2 separate regions of the Homo sapiens genome follow, and region 1 is linked to region 2. The links come from fine-mapping of genetic effects on gene expression. A gene starts in region 2. The other region holds a variant in brackets. All regions are shown on one strand. Distances are from middle to middle. Region 1 overlaps TNFRSF11B (TNF receptor superfamily member 11b). Region 2 holds the start of COLEC10 (collectin subfamily member 10).

The links. PIP is the estimated chance that this variant, and not a neighbour inherited with it, causes the effect. A credible set is the group of variants that fine-mapping cannot tell apart.
Region 1: its variant is the best candidate, but not a certain one, in a credible set for the expression of COLEC10 in thyroid (GTEx, PIP 0.90).

The regions. Positions count from the first base shown.
Region 1 is chr8:118,944,266-118,946,765 of GRCh38, reverse strand. The region is part of intron 1 of TNFRSF11B (TNF receptor superfamily member 11b); the gene reads left to right. Among named protein-coding and RNA genes, the nearest start is that of TNFRSF11B, 6.4 kb to the left of the region's middle. The variant A/CAA (reference allele first, on the strand shown) is at 1,490.
Region 2 is chr8:119,065,849-119,068,884 of GRCh38, reverse strand. COLEC10 (collectin subfamily member 10) reads right to left here and starts at 1,638. Exons shown (of 6, transcript NM_006438.5): 1 at 1,456-1,638. The coding sequence starts at 1,603. LOC101927513 (a long non-coding RNA gene) reads left to right here and starts at 103. Exons shown (of 2, transcript NR_134297.1): 1 at 103-1,211. RefSeq lists an enhancer at 464-1,663.

The DNA.
Region 1 (2,500 bases), 120 kb after region 2:
TGTCTCAACAGCCTAGAGAAGATTTTTGGAGCCATAGAGATGGATGACTTCACAAGCCAAGAGAGAAGAGTGTGAAGCCGCCCCCAGAGCACAATTCTGATATCGATAGTCTGGTAAACAAAATGCAAATATGAACAGCAGTAGCAGCCATGTTTAGAAAAGAAAACAAAAATCAAAATAAAACTTAGCAACCCACAATAGCAGGAACTAGTGAATCGGAAATCCTAGGAACATCCGTAAACTATCTATGCTAGAAGAAAGAGTGAGGTATGGCCAACTTGAAATAGATACAAGGACGGTGTTTTTATGTGACATGTAATTAGTTTTTGGAACTCACTACCACAGAATATTTTGGGGTAACTAGCAGAGAAAGTCTAAAAAAAGAATCCTTTTAGACAGTTGTAAGGGATAAGAATAGTGTTACAACACATTAGCTAAGAAACTGAGTGGTACCCACTCTCTCTCACATTTACCTGGCCTCTCTAAATGAACGTTCTGAGGCTAGAACAGTCTACAGACACACTAAAATGGTTCTTTCCATCTACAAGTTGGCATAATTTCCGAGGTGCTTGAGTAGTTTTTTTCACCCCAATTTCTCAGAAGCACCTGAATCAGCCACACCATAAATGGATAGAGGATGCAAGAGGAAATGAAATGTAATTCCTAAAGCCCTTCCAAAAAAAGTAATGTGCTGATAATGGCTTTGATTTACCTCTTTATTGTTGTGATTTTTAAAAAAATTCACCTCTCTAGATTTATAGTCTTAATACCTATTAAAATATTTAATTTCCTTGAAGCCATCTTCTTTAAAAATAAAATGAATAGCTTTAAGATTTCTACTCCAATTCAGACTGGACCTTTTCTATAATAGCCTCTTCAATAATCACCAATAAAATAGGAAAATAGGTGTCAAGATGAATTTAGATTCAAGACAAGACAGTGACTCATCTAAGCTTTGTGGCTGCCTTTAGTAAATCCAATTTTCTTCTCTGGTCTTTGATCCAGAAACCTCAGTTCTCTTGCCATGTAATACTACTTTCTTGTTCCAAAAAAATGATTTCTTTTATTCTTAGAAATATGAATATCAGCACTCTATTCCTTAAAAAATTCTCCTGACCATCAATTTGCATCAATTTCACCACCACCACCATCACCAAAAAATGTAATTTAACAATTCAGTTGTGGGTCATGGTGACAATACTTTTGCAATGGCAGTGGTGAGAGGCAAGAGTTTCTCATTCTGAGACACATTCTTCTTGTCTTTAGCCAACATGCATAGAAGTTATGAATGTGTGTATTTTTCATATTTCACTTAGTTAAAAGCCAGGTTCCAAAGTTCTCAGTTGTATTTAGTCTCTGAGCTCCAATGGGTGACACCATTTCTATGGGTCTTACTTCCAGCATCTCTAAAATAGAGGTTAGAATAGGTCATATGTGGAAGGTCTGATGCAGTTTAAAGATTTTGCCATCTGAATTAAACACACACACA[A/CAA]TTGTGCATTATTTCCCGCTCAAAACATGCAAATATCAAACAGACTTGTCTATAAAAAACATTATAGGAATGTTTTAAAATATTCTATTTTGTTGCCTTTGTCAAAGTTTATTCTGCCCCATTGGTTCATGTATAAGAAATTCTATTTAAATCAGTGAGACCACAAGATGAAGCAGCTTTTGAAATGTTACCTACCTTTAGATAGTAGGTAGTATGACTTATATATTTTAGAGTCAAAAATTATTCTTTTAAGCCAAAAAAGATTTTCTCATTCTGAGACACATTCTCCTTGTCTTTAGCCAATATGCATAGAAGTTATGAATGTGCATATTTTTCATATCCCATTTAGTTAAAAGCCAGGTTCAAGACATCCCCTCAGGACTTACTGAAGAGATATAATTATGGTCACTTGCAGTCTCCTTAGATGCATTGAGTGGAATTTTCTTTGAATTTGTATTCACAAGGAAGTACTTGACAACTGCACACCATTATTTGGAATACACGTCAAACCTTCAGGCAGAATAAGCATGATAATGGGTAGGTTGGCATGACCATTAACAACTACACTTGAATAATACACCAGGCTGATAGACAGAGACCTCTGCACCCACGCTCTGTTTCCTGTCTCTTCTTTTAATATCCAGTAAAAAATGTAAAAAAAAGAAAAAAAAACTAGATTGTGCTAAAATAAATGCCAATAGAAAGCATGAGCAATGTTTATGAGGATGATGTACTTGTTTGTGCTCTTTGCCAGTTGTTCCCAGTTCTTCTGCCTTCCAGAAGCTTGGTGGGATTGTGTATCCTAGCCTCCTGGTGAGGATGGGGTCGGGGAGAATGTGAATAGTTCTGGCCAGTAACTCATGAGTTAAAATGATGTAAGTCACTTACAAATTAGAGCACTTAATAGTTGATGTATACAGCCCTCCCAAAGTTGTTTGTTTTTTCCCTTTTCCTCCTTGACAGCAAATCAGCAATATTTCAGGTATTGGTTGCTATATCATCCTAGGTCCC
Region 2 (3,036 bases):
GGATGAAGAAGAGGAAATCACACCCAAGAACATAACAGACTTAGTTCTAGAACCCACGGTTCTAGAACACCGCTTCCCAAGTCCCTCTCCCCAGGATCACTCACTTCATTTTGTCACACTCTGGCTTGTAATTATCTCATAATGTCTGCAGATGCTCAGGAGGAAAGTTAATGAGATTTCCACTGTTTGAAGTTTTAACAGGGTTTCTAATGGGAAAATGGGAAGGGAGAAGTTTTCTATTAGGTAAAAAATAGTGCTATTCTCAAATGGATTCTCCCATTTGCAGGGACAAGGAAAACTTTAATTTTCAATGCCCCCATGACACCCCAGGAATAATCTAAAGTTTCCTATACTCTAAGGAAACTTCAGTAACGGTTTTAAGCAAATACTTTATTTCTAATCAAAACTTTCTTTCTGAACATTTGCCCTCGCATTATTCATTTATTCACCCAAGAAATTATTTGGAAGCTCTAAGCTCTCATTGTTCCTCACAGCATTTATTTTATCGTATCAAAGGTTAAAACTTGGATTGCAATCTTAGAGGAAAATTAATTCAGTGATTAAGAAAAATGCACTTTAAGCAATACACATTTAAATAACTGACAGGCATGGGGCAATGTATTTCTGAATTTTGTTTTTTGGAAAAACACTTTTTTCTACTTAAAATTTTAGGCAGCTGCAATTCTTCTACCCTATAGCCTGGAGAAACAGCATGAATTACTAATAAGGGAGCACCAATCTGCAGTGCAGTGACCACTTTCAGAACAAAAGGGTGAAAGCTAAAACCAGAAAAATAGATTTTTTAAAATCTACTGGTTGCTTAAAGCATATTTGGACCTTGGCTGTACTTGAGAACATTTTGCAATATTCTACCATCCTTGAGCAGAAGGCATTTGGCCCCAGAGACTACACTTCCAAATAAAGAAATGTTCATTTATATACTACCTTCAATGCTTGACAAAATGTTTCCATCCTCTACGTTGGAACTCAGGATCCCATTAACTTATGAAATATATATTTAAGATTTAAGTTTTATGTTACTGACCTTTTGCTTAAACAGCTTTACCAGCATCAGTATTAGAAAGGAGGAGAGTACAAACAGTGCAATAATAGAGGTGCTTTTAAGGAAGGAAAGGGCTTCTGGAGACTCATGCCTGGATTGTGCATCTGCCCCGGAGCAGAATGGAACAGGGAATTTCCCCCTGCCCTGGGTAAGTTCCCTCAGATCTCCGTCCTGGGTTTCCCCTTCCCAACATCCTCTTACCTAACATCAAAGGAGAGCTTTAAATAAGTAACAGACCAGATCTGGAAAATCCTGATTTTCCAAAATAGAAGGAAAATGGGAGGAAACTAGGGAGGAGAGAAGAGAAAGTCATTGAAATCTAGGAAGGGGTTCAGAGATGAGGGAAGATATCATATTTATTATACATGAAAATTGTGGTTTTCTTTCCTCACCTTTGGGTCCTGGTGAAATTGTGTGTGTGGCACAGACTTCAGCGGTAGGACGGCTATCAATATCCAGACCCAGACTCTGAATTTGCAAAAGAAATAGTACCAGGAGGATAAATTGGTTTCTTCGAAGCAAGGATGCAAAGCCATTCATTGCTGTGGTTCCTCAGAAAAGGGTCTCCCAGAAATGCCAAATAAACAGCTTTATTTTAAATAAAACCTCCTGCTTTGGGGAAGAAGGGGAAGTATTTGGAACACACATTCCAAAAAGGGCTACAGAGACAGGAAGGAAGCATACCCTAGGTTGTTTATTTTCTCAGTGCTCCAAATGGACCATACATTGTCCAGACTGTTTATTTTCAAGTGACAACAGTTTATTGAAAATTATCTCTGAACTCCAGTGTGCATGTCAGTAGAAACATCCCCAAGAACAAAGAAGATAGAGATGCCTTCTGCTGAGTACTTGAGCTGACAATTTAATAGGCTATATTGCATTTAAACGCTGAGTTTCAGAAAGGTTGTGAACCAGAGAGGTCTTCAGTTAGCAACATGTTATGCAAACACCGTGCATGGCTTTGAGCTTTTCATAAGGTGATATTTATTACCTGCTTGTGCCTGTTGAACACTAATGCTTCCAATGCCCTCCATGACCTTCTTACTCTTGCTACCAAGATTATTCTCTTGTGATTAAATTCAAAAGGAAAGAACAACCAGCTTTTCTGTGAAGCAACTTGGTGATAAGTATTAGGAATATTAAAATGTTTATTACCTTTGGCCTAGTTTATAGCTTTTAGCCTTTCTGGTACACTATCTCAAGGAAATATTCTGAAATGTGGGCAAAGCTTCATTTGAAGGGATGTGGCAGAAAGGCGAAAGGCCTTCAATTGCCTAACAACGTGTTAACAGTGGGCAAATTACGGTAAAATATATGAGAGTGTATGACATGACAATTTTATTAAAATGGTGTTTTCAGCAAGTCTTTTACAAAATAAGGGGGAAAAGCTTGTGGTATTATGTTTCATAAAAAGCTCAACAGATTTAGATGTAGAGTATGTAGATCAGATACAGATATAGATACAGAGATCAGGATCTCTATCTATTCCACAAACCTATAACCTGTACAAATAGTATGGGCATAGTAAGATATTGGAAGATTGGAACCAGAATCACATATATTGGAGAGGCCCCTTACCTTCTCCATTCTTGAACAGCATCTCAACTAAGAGTTAGGTGAAAGGGATTTTGGACCTGCTTTCCTTGAAATTGGAAAAGAAGGACCTTACAGATCCTGATACAGACTGACTGCTGAAAAAATATCCCTAAGAGATGTCGTTACAAGTAACCATCAATCCAAGAAATACAGGTGCATTAGTTTCCTAGGGCTGCCATAACAAAGCACCACAAACTGAGTGGCTTACACCAGCGGCCGGGTGGCTAAAACCAGTGCCAACCCTTTTGGCACCAGGGACCAGTTTGGTGGAAGACAATTTTTCTATGGGGAAGATGGGGAAATACTTTCAGGATGATTCAGGCAGGCACATTACTTTTTCTTTTTCTTTTCTTTTTTCTTTTTTTTTTTTGAGATGG